2 separate regions of the Homo sapiens genome follow, and region 2 is linked to region 1. Evidence: fine-mapped expression QTL. A gene starts in region 1. The other region holds a variant in brackets. All regions are shown on one strand. Distances are from middle to middle. Region 1 holds the start of ADSS1 (adenylosuccinate synthase 1). Region 2 overlaps SIVA1 (SIVA1 apoptosis inducing factor).

Evidence for each region. PIP is the estimated chance that this variant, and not a neighbour inherited with it, causes the effect.
Region 2: its variant is the best candidate, but not a certain one, in a credible set for the expression of ADSS1 in sun-exposed skin (GTEx, PIP 0.59).

Annotation. Positions count from the first base shown.
Region 1 is chr14:104,720,951-104,726,295 of GRCh38, forward strand. ADSS1 (adenylosuccinate synthase 1) reads left to right here and starts at 3,279. Exons shown (of 13, transcript NM_152328.5): 1 at 3,279-3,512. The coding sequence starts at 3,321. It overlaps INF2 (inverted formin 2), which reads left to right. Exons shown (of 23, transcript NM_022489.4): 23 at 1-1,585. RefSeq lists enhancers at 1,030-1,529, 4,326-5,026 and a silencer at 3,086-3,495.
Region 2 is chr14:104,755,224-104,760,585 of GRCh38, forward strand. It overlaps SIVA1 (SIVA1 apoptosis inducing factor), which reads left to right. Exons shown (of 4, transcript NM_006427.4): 2 at 407-601; 3 at 1,381-1,537; 4 at 4,205-4,431. The coding sequence ends at 4,262. LOC107987209 (a long non-coding RNA gene) reads right to left here. Exons shown (of 3, transcript XR_001750915.3): 2 at 1,183-2,197. Among named protein-coding and RNA genes, the nearest start is that of SIVA1, 4.8 kb to the left of the region's middle. RefSeq lists enhancers at 4,172-5,120, 5,121-5,362. The variant T/C (reference allele first, on the strand shown) is at 1,965.

The sequences.
Region 1 (5,345 bases):
TCTGCGTCGTCCTCGTGTGGATGCTGCTGTGGACGTCTGCGTCGTCCTCCTGTGGATGCTGCTGTGGACGTCTGCGTCGTCCTCGTGTGGATGCTGCTGTGGACGTCTGCGTAGTCTCGTGTGGATGCTGCTGTGGACGTCTGCGTAGTCTCGTGTGGATGCTGCTGTGGACGTCTGCGTCGTCCTCGATGCTGCTGTGGACGTCTGCGTCGTCCTCGTGTGGATGCTGCTATGGACGTCTGCGTAGTCTCGTGTGGATGCTGCTGTGGACGTCTGCGTCGTCCTCGTGTGGATGCTGCTGTGGACGTCTGCGTAGTCTCGTGTGGATGCTGCTGTGGACGTCTGCGTAGTCTCGTGTGGATGCTGCTGTGGACGTCTGCGTCGTCCTCGTGTGGATGCTGCTGTGGACGTCTGCGTAGTCTCGTGTGGATGCTGCTGTGGACGTCTGCGTCGTCCTCGTGTGGATGCTGCTGTGGACGTCTGTGTAGTCTCATGTGGATGCTGCGAGTTTTCGTTGCTCTGGGGTAGATTCGTAGCGGAGGAACAACTGGGCGACACGCTAAGTTTATGTTTAACTTTTTAAGTAACTGCCTAACTGTTTTCCAAAGCAGCTGCACCATTTTTCATTCCCATCCATGCTATTGTTTTTCAGTTAAATAGCTCCACTCCTCCCCCTCCCCACCCTCCACAGAACTGCCAGTAAAACTGGACTATGGAGTATTGGGTGGGGTCACCTACAAGGTCATCTGCAGCAAGTGAGACCATCGCCCCTCCTGCCTGGAGAGGTGGGACTGGGGACCCTGTGACAGGAGGAGCTGCCCTTCCTGGAGCCTGGTTTTTCTTTTTCCTCTGTGCTCCATGAGAAGTCAGTTTAGTGGGCTACAGCCAGCAAAGGAACCAAAACCAACAGGAGCTCTGGGGGTGCCTTGCATGGCGAGGCTCCGTGGCTGCACGCGTGTATGCAGGTGGCTGTGGGTGTCTGTGTGTCCTGGGCCACTGTGTGCGATGGTCCCACTGGGAGGTGTGGCCCCCAAAGAGTGGAACCCACAGGTGGACACACCCATGCACCCTCGTTCTTGCCCAAGGTCACACATCGAGACAGCAGGGCCCAGATGGATGGCCCCAAGCTCGGTGGCTCCCGTGCTGCCCACACCTGGGGACAGGCCCACTGTGGGGGGTAAGGGGTGGAGGTGTTCTAATTCGGGCTGAGCCGTGTGACTGGCAGGGGCCCCAGCTGTTGGGCCTGGGCAGGACTGTTTTTAGAAAAGCCCCAACTCCCTGCCCCTACCCGGGCCCGTGGCTATTTATAGTCCGGGCCTGGAGAAGTCAGTGAGTCACTAGCGTTCGCCTCTGCAGGGTCAGTCCAAGCCCCCTTAGTGAGGTGGTCTAGCATGTCCCCCAGTCCCCCAAGCCTCTATCTGACATCTGCTAGCCCAGAGCCCCAGGGGTCCCCAGGAAGGGCTCAGAGCTGGTGGCCCCCCCCAGGCCTTGGCAGCACCTCCTTGTCTGATGGGACTTTGTGGTTCCTGGTGGACATTTAACATTGTCGGTTTCTCTCATCTGGAAACAAACCTCCATGACGCTCTTGGTTTCTCCTGTTGCAGTCTGCCTCTTCCCTACCTGCACAGCTCTCTGCTGTGCCCCAAATTCCCTCCTTGACACCCCCAGACCCACTGCCCCACCCTCAGGTGCAGCCCCTTCTCAGCAGGCTCCAGGTTCTGCCAAATCTCAGAGCCCTCCAACCCTGCTCCAGCCCCTTCCCAAGCTGGGGCCGGTGGTCTGTTCACCCCCGACCAGCTGTCACCCCCAAGGTGGCACTAGGAAGTTCATGCATGAAGACTGCTTTTCCACTGAGGCCCCACTGACTGCTTGGAACCCATACAACGGCATTTTCCCCGCAAGGATGCTGAGGGAGAGGAAGTGTCGATGTGCCCAGTGGAAGAAGAGGGGACTGGGGACATGGGTGCAGGGGGCAGGAGGCCAGGCTTCAAACAGCCCCTCTCCCCCAGGCTGGGGCACGGTCAGGTGCCAAGAGAGGAGGGGTGGGGAGGCTGCAGGCAGGGGTGGGCAGTGGTGTCCTTGGCTGCACCTGAATCACTAACTCAGTGTGAGCGACCTTTGCTGTGACAGGCCCAAGCTCCACTCCTTCCTCACAGGGAGTGTCCCGTCTCCATGGACTCCCTGTCACTAGCCTTGGAGTTGCCCTGAGCCCAAGGGGCCTCGTGGCTCCAGGCTCTTTGGCAACTGAGAGCCGTCAGGGAGGGAACAAAGGACCCCGCCTCCCTGCTCTGAAGCAAGAACCTGATTCTCTTTTCCGCCCTTGGGGCCCCAGGACCCTTCTCTTGGCCACCAGGGCTGGCTTCCTCCAAGCCTCATCTACTTGGGAGGGGTGGGGCGGGATGGGTGAGACAGGACAACCAGCCGGGAACACGGGAGCCTCGCAGACCATCGCCTCCCTCTGGGGCCTAGTCCCTCCACAGGCTGGGCCGGGAAGGTCTGGTGTGGGACCTCTTGGGAACCTGGGCCCCACGGTGGCGTGCATCCCTGGGGGTTGCTCCCATGCCAGCCAGGTGACGCTGACAGGATGGGTCCCTTTACCCCAGACTTGGGTGCTGAGGGCCGGAGCTCCATGCTGGAGCCCGCCTGCTCGCTACAGCCAGGCCCGAGCCACAGCGCGCCCGGGCGGGACGCGGGGCCCCTGCCGTGGGGCAGAAGTGCGGGCAGTTGCGGGGACACAAAGTCCTCGGAGAGGACGCGCTGCGCGGCTCTTCGCGGCCGCCAGGGGGCGCGCCCGCGCCCAGGGCACTCGGGGTTCCACGGGGGGCAGGTGCGCTCCTCGAGAGTGCGGACCCTCTAGGTGGGGTGCAGGACGCAGCTCCCCTTTTGCAAACCGCACTCCTTCCCTGGAGGGAACGACCACCCCTGCAGTTGCTGGAACCCCGAAGTCCTGGGCCCGGCAAGGGCTTGGTGGGGGGTGAGGTCGCGGTGCACAAGCCCTGGTCCCCGACGGGCTAGCGAGAAACTGCCTCCGTTGGCAAATTCGTGGGGGCGGCTCCCCAGGCCATCTGCCTGCCTGGCCGTTGGTCCGTGCGGCCCCTCACCCCTAAAGTGCTCGAGACTCAACTGGGCTTCCCGGGCAGCGGCGAGGGGGCGGGGATGTGGCGGCCGGAGGTCACCGGGGCGTCACTGCGCCCGCCCTGGCCCTCCCCCGGCCCGCCCCCTGCCCCGCCCCCTGCCCCGGCCCGGCTCCATTTAATGGCGCGGACGCCGGCGGCGGCGGGCTCCTGGCCGGGCCAGCGCAGCGGAAGAGCCAAGCCAGCATGTCGGGGACCCGAGCCTCCAACGACCGGCCCCCCGGCGCAGGCGGCGTCAAGCGGGGGCGGCTGCAGCAGGAGGCGGCGGCGACCGGCTCCCGCGTGACGGTGGTGCTGGGCGCGCAGTGGGGGGACGAGGGCAAAGGCAAGGTGGTGGACCTGCTGGCCACGGACGCCGACATCATCAGCCGCTGCCAGGTGCGGGCTGGGGCGCCGGGTCCCTCCCCCACCGCCCAGCGAGCCCCCCTCCCCCGACCCAGACGGCCCCTGTCCTCCCATGCCCTGGCCGGTCACTCACCCGCTTGGATGCCTTCCTTCCGGGAGCACCTTTCCCAGGGCCACCCCACCCACGCACGCACACGCACCACTCACACAACCCCCGACCCACACACACCGCCCTCCTTCCACCCACCCCTACTCCACCACCCCGGCAGCGGGCCAGGGCACAGCTATAAATACAAGTCGCTGAGTTGGGGACACCCGATCCTTAGGGGGTGGCGCATGCCATGGGTGTGACGCTGGACCCTCCATGGGGGAACCAGAGGACCCAGCCCCAGGATGGTTTGAGGACCCCCAAGACACCCCCCTTCCTCATTTACAGTGATCACCTGGGGCCTGTCTGGGTCTGGGATAGGGCTTACCTGGCTCCCCGCAAGGTCTGCAGGTGGTGGAGGGGGTAAAAGCTGCCTGCTGGGTGGGGGTGACCCCGGTGAGTCAGCCAAGGAGAGGCAGAGGTGGAAGGGGGCCAGGCCGTCCTGGGGGGCAATTGGGGCCGCGCCTGAGGGAGGGTGCTTGGGACGATCCTAGCCAGACATGGGAGAGGGAGGGCCACAGACTTCTGGCCAGGGTGACCCCGTGGCTGGCAGTGCCACCGAGGAGGCCAGACCTGCTTTGTCCCCCAGGGCCCAGGGCTGGGCCTCTGCCAGCCGGCAGCTGCTCTCAGCGCCCCCATCTGTTCTGACTGAGCTGCACACTGGGCACTCTCTCGGGCCGCCACCCTGGGGCTACATGCCCCATGCCAGGGCAGCCAAGTCTGCTGCCCATGGGCTGACTTACAGCTCCAGGCACAAAGGGGTCAACTTTGGGATGCACGCGTCTGGGGTTTGGAGCCTGCCTGGGGCTGCTGCCAATAATGGAACAAGGGCCCCCGCACCGTCCCTTCTCCGGGTTCTGTGGCCTCCTTCCTGAGCTCCAGAGAGGAGGGCTGGGGCCCAAGACGAAGGGAGTCAGCCCAGCACCCTGTGTGGCTCAGGGCTGTCCGAGCCCCTCCTGCCGGAAGGGACTGTGGCTTCCTAGAAAGTTCTTCCTGGAACAGTGGGGGACCTCCCCCCTTGCTCTCCGTCCTAAGCAGCAGGCAAGCACATCCCTCGCTCCAGAGATCCCCCAGGTCCTAGAGGTGGTCCTCAGCCCATGCTCCCTCCACACTGCCTCTGCCCCGCCACCTTGTCCTGGGCCGCCAGGGGGCATGTCCAGCGCTCTACTGCTCTTCACCCTCCAGGGCGCCCTCAGCGTGGGGCAGCCCCGGCCCCTGACCCTCCTTAGACCTCTCTGCTCCCGTGAGGCCCAGGCCCCTCCCTATGAGCTGCCAGCTCTGGTGGGCGCCATGCACTTCTGCAGGGCGGGCTGGGGCCCCCACAGGTGCTGTACACAGCATTCACCTGGCTCCGCGCTCCCAGCTGTGGAGATGGTTCTGGATCTGGGCACTCCCTGCTGTGCCCCCCACCCAGTCCCCCCACAGCCCCGCTCACTCGCAGCTGCACACGGGAGCACGGAGGATGCAGCAGGCTGGAGCCCATCCCGCACTCCGGCCACCAGGCTGCCCCCGCCAGGCCACCCCCACCAGGCCACCCTATAGCCTGAGGGAGCCCCTGGCTCTCCAAGTGAGTGGGAATAAAAGAGGTTTGTCCCTGGAGCCCACACCTGTCCCCCTGCAGCCTCCTCACGAGCCAGTGAGGCAGGATCATCCTGAAGAGCTCCTTCACAGGGGAACAGAGGCTCAGGCGTGGAGGAATGAGTCACTGCCACATTTGG
Region 2 (5,362 bases), 34 kb after region 1:
TCTGTGCATTCCACAGAGCCTGGTTTCCAGGTGGGGAGTGCTGGGGAAGCAGAAAAGGGAGAAAGGGGACAAGCTTAGTGAGGCGAGGCCAGCCGTGAATTGCAGAAAATGAGCCGAGTGATAGGAGAGGGAACCCTTGCATCAGACACAGGTGGGGCTGCAGGGCCAGAGCCTTCCTGGAGGAGATGACAGCTAAGCCAGGTAAGGAAAGGACGCACAAGCATTCTCAGCATAGAGGCAGAGCAGGACCCAGCTCGCCAGGGCACAACACAGGCTGGGGTTACTGGGAGACAGAGGGCACACAGGAGGACGATGGGGTTCATGTGAGGCTAGAAAGACTCAATGGCCATGCAGGGGCTTCGTTGGTACACAGTGAAGGACGTGAGAATGATTTATCTTCCCCCAGAGAAGACCAAGCGACTCCTGTTCCTCGGGGCCCAGGCCTACCTGGACCACGTGTGGGATGAAGGCTGTGCCGTCGTTCACCTGCCAGAGTCCCCAAAGCCTGGCCCTACAGGGGCCCCGAGGGCTGCACGTGGGCAGATGCTGATTGGACCAGACGGCCGCCTGATCAGGAGCCTTGGGCAGGCCTCCGAAGCTGGTGAGTGGCACCAGCAGCCCTTTGTGGCTGTGGCACTGAGGGCAGGTGGTGGCACGAGCATTTTTCTTGATTTGCAAGGTCAGGCTTTTCCTCCCTGGGTAAGCAGGACTCTGACCCAGAGCTTGGCCTTCTGGCTCAGAAGGCTCCTGTTATCAGGAGGTCTCACATTCAAGACTGGAAGTTGTTAAACAGCTTCTAAGTACTGGGCCAAAAAAGCAGCAGAGACTCCCCGGGTATCCCGTCTGCTTTCCGCCTGCAGCCCCCTCAGATAGTCCCACAAGGCTGGAAACATGCCAGTCCCATCCCTATGCAGTGTGGGGTCTCAGAGCATCACCTGTGTTGCTGGTTAGAAATGCAATCCCCGACTCTACCTCAAGTCTGGTTGGTGTGTCTAGGAGGAGCCCAGGCACCTCTTTGTTAACCAGTAAGGCAGTGGGCCACACTGAGACCCAGATGGGACACATGGAGTTCTGACAAGCAACAGGGGAAGAATGGTCCTTCCAGCACTAGCCTCCAGGTAGCAGAGGGACCTGGTAAGGGAAAGAGCACTGAACTTGGAGTCAACTACAGGCATATCTCACCTTGGATCTCTGTAGTAAAACGGGGGTCCTGTGCACTGTACCAGGCTCACGGGTTGTCAGAAGGATCCAGTGTAGGTGGGGATGGGGTAGGCAGGTCAGAGCCCTCTGCCCTCAGGTATGCATGGAGGCAGGTAGCCCGGCAGTCCCGGAAACTCCAGTCTCCTTGCAGCCTGACGGCTTGGCGTTTCTTCCTCACAGACCCATCTGGGGTAGCGTCCATTGCCTGTTCCTCATGCGTGCGAGCCGTGGATGGGAAGGCGGTCTGCGGTCAGTGTGAGCGAGCCCTGTGCGGGCAGTGTGTGCGCACCTGCTGGGGCTGCGGCTCCGTGGCCTGTACCCTGTGTGGCCTCGTGGAGTAAGTACTTCAGTCCCTGGAGCTGCTGAGATCCCATAGCCCCAGCAAGCCGTGATGGGGGACGGGTGGGTCACCCATGTGGGCCCAGAACACACACGTGTGGCCCCTGATGCAGTGCCATCTGGCATTGCCTAACGGGACATGGTGGCAATAGATGCTTGGCCCAACTTTAGTGGTTAGTAATCCTCTCTAAGGGAAAGCTGAACCTCACAGATGACCTGCTCTGTATCCGGCTCTAGTCCCTGTCTTCAGCCACTTCCTGTTCTGATCTTTGAGCACCCCCACCTCCTCCTCCTCTGGTCTTTGAGCCCCCCCTCCCCCCGTCCGAGGAGCCCCTGGTTGGTGACACAGGTGCACACCGCAGCTTCACCACAGTCATGCGTGCCGTTTGGTTGTAGACCCTCTCAGGCAGGAAGTGGAGTGTTTG[T/C]GTAGTCTCCCATTTGTGGGTGGGTTTGCTGCAGCTGGCTGGATCCCGTCCTTACTCCTAAGGTGGGGAGGGGCGTTCTCACCCTAGGGGCTACTCACCTGGTGGATGGGAGTGGACAGTGTGGAGCCTGTTTGCCCTGCCCCGTGAGAAAGATGACTTCATCCAGACACATGTGGAACTGGCTCCATAGACCCAAAGCAAGCTTAGTCCAAACAATGTCTGAAATTGTCCATCTAAAATAGAAACCACATGTTACATCTCGAGTCCTTTCTCTCGAGCCTTTCTTCAGTCGGGGCAGAGGCCCAGACTCATTGGAGACGGAGAGCCCTGGGCAGGGGGGGCAGCACCAGGGAGAAGCGCCGCGTGCCAGTGATCGGCTCCCATGGCTTCAGCATGGGCAGGAGTGGGGTAACGCACCCCATCCAGGTTGGGAATCATCTGCAGGGCTAGCTATGAATGTGGGATACTCTGTCTTTGCTTTTCACCCGCTGAGTTCATCTTCTTTCCTAGAAGTAAACTGAAAAGGGCAGGGTTTTCTCATTGTCTGGTGGCCCTCTCACCAAAGCAGAAGTGAACATAGCCATGGGCAGGTTCAGCGGAGAGGTGGGTCCCAGAGCGCTGCGTGGCTGGCCTCCCACTCCTGCCCTGCACACCATCCTTGAGGGACTCCCTTGCGCCCATTTCCTCCTGGCCTCTACCTACTTTCTGCTGCTGCTTCCTCCCATACCCACAGAGTTCACGTTGAGCTGAGTGGGCCACTGTCCCCACTGTGGACACACTCTTTTATCGCAGCTACAGCACAGGAGGTGGGCTCTGCCCTCTTTCACAAATAAATGACTTGTTCCAGGTCACAAGCCAGAAGTGGCATTCCCAGGCCAGGCAGCCCAGCTGGTGGCACCCGCAGTCTCCTACCCCCTCCCCTGCCATTTCCTACTTCAGGACCAGGCGTCGCAGGAGTGGGGGAAAACAGGGATCTGTCCACACGGCTCTGGTTTAACACAGATGCAGCCCAGCAGCCTTTGGCGTCCTGCTGATGGCCTGCACTGGCCCACGCCTGGCCCGTCCTCTGCAGGGCTCTCCAGCTGGCTGCCGGTGGCGGTGAGGGGCTGTCTTCGCGGCTCACCCACAATACTACTGGCAAACTCTGCAAACCAAGTGGCAAGCAGTTCTGGCTGCCTTGTTGACTCCACGGCCCTGTCGTGTTTGGGGTAGCCATTGCCAGTCCCGTTTCCTCGCAACATCTCTCTTAATCACTTTCTCCCTGTGTTTTGCCGGGTTCCCTAGCCTTTACCTTTAGAGCTTTCTTTTTTTTTTTTTTTTGAGACGGAGTCTCGCTCTGTCACCCAGGCTGGAGTGCAGTGGTGCGATCTTGGCTCACTGCAACTTCCACCTCCTGTGTTCAAGCAATTTTCCTGTCTCAGCCTCCCAAGTAGCTGGAGTTACAGGCGTGCGCTAGCACGCCCAGCTAATTTTTGTATTCTTAGTAGAGACAGAGTTTCACCATGTTGGCCAGGCTGGTCTCGAACTCCTGACCTCAGGTGATCCTCCGGCCTCAGCCTCCCAAAGTGCTGAGGTAAGCCACACCATACGCGTGAGCCACCATGCCCGGCCCTACCCTTAGTCTTGATATATCAGAAAAGCACTGTTTGATGTGCTTCAGTGTAAACCATTGTGGTTCGGTGAATTCTGGCAGGTCATCTGGAGGTTTCTTTGGAGAGCTTCTATCCTACTGGAAACCCAGGTTGGGCCCCATGTGGATTGATCGGCAGTGGGAATCAGCTAGGGCTGCTGTAACTGAGTTCGCAGACCCAGTGGCATAGACAGCAAAGAGGTACTGCCACGTGGCTTTGGAGACCAGAAGTCTGAGAGGAAGGTGCTGGCAGGGCTGGTTCCTTCTGAGGCTGCAATGGAAAACCTGTCCTGGCCTCTCTCCTGGCATCTGCTGGTTATCTTTGGTGTTCCCTGTAGACAGCTGCCCCCTCCCTGTATCTTCATGTCGTCTTCCTTCTCTGTGTCCTTCTCTTCACGTAGTCTTTTTAGGACGCTGGTCGTGTTGCCTTAGGGCCCCCATGTCAGTGCCGTCATCTAGACTGATGATGCCCGCAGTGATCCTGTCTCCAGATAAGGTCATGTCCTGAGGTGTTCTGGGTTAGGACTTTGACGTTTGAATGGTGGGGGGTGGTGGACACAATTCAGCCCCTGACAGCAGCTTTTCTCTCCCCTCCCTGACGCTGTCGCAGCTGCAGTGACATGTACGAGAAAGTGCTGTGCACCAGCTGTGCCATGTTCGAGACCTGAGGCTGGCTCAAGCCGGCTGCCTTCACCGGGAGCCACGCCGTGCATGGCAGCCTTCCCTGGACGAGCGCTCGGTGTTCACACTGAACTGTGGGGTCGACGGGAGGGGTGCCTTTTACATGTTCTATTTTGTATCCTAATGACAGAATGAATAAACCTCTTTATATTTGCACAAGAGGACTCTTGTCTGTCAGCACTTCTGAGGGTGGAGTTTGTGACCCTCCACCTGGGAGGGCCAAAGGAGCAGTCAGTGGGCGGGGCCTGCTGCACCTGCTGTCTACCCGCCAGCTCCTAGAGACCCCACTGTGCATTGTGTGAGGCCCCTTACTCGCCCCCTGCTACAGGTGGGAAGGCTCAGCCCAGAGCACGCTCCTCCCCAGCTCGCCCAGCTGGTAAATGGGGAGAAAGGACCCAGGTCTGGCTCCAGGGTACACAACCAGTGTACTAGACCTTCACGGAGAGAGGTGATACTCGCGCCCCATCCCCAGACGCCACTGTCATGCACGCCTGATCCATCACATCTTGGTGTCCACTTTACTTTTTTGGTGCCTGTATGGTCAGGCCCCGTGTGATTGATAGGCCCCTGCCCTCCAGGAGCTTTGCTCTAGCAGGGGAGATGGGCCCAGCTGTGCTCCCTCTGGAGTCGGTGTAGCTTGTGTGGGGCCTTGAAGGAAGAGGAGTTGACAGGAGAGGAGGCGGGGTGGCCTGGAGGACAGAAGAGGGCAGGCTGCTTGAGTGCTGGTCCCCACACAAGTCGACTGAGGCGGGTCCCAGCCCCTCCAGGGATGAGTGAGCAGTTGAGCCACAGCCCCTCTGAGAAGCTCTGGACTAGAGTAAAGGTTGTTTGGGGCAGAGGGTGGGTGGGAGCATGTGCTGGGGACAGTTGAGAAGAGCCTTTGCTGTTCCTGGGAAGCTGTTAGAAGAGCAAATTATGCTGATTCTTAGAGAAAAGTCAGTGGTGCCCAAGTGGTGGGTTGGAGCCAGGCCCAGAGTGGGATTTGCTGCCCTGGGGCCGAGGATATACCACTCCCGTGTCACGGGTAGAGGGGGCGCTCAGAGAGGTGGTCAGCATGGTAAAATTCCAGGGGGCAACTTAGAAGGGG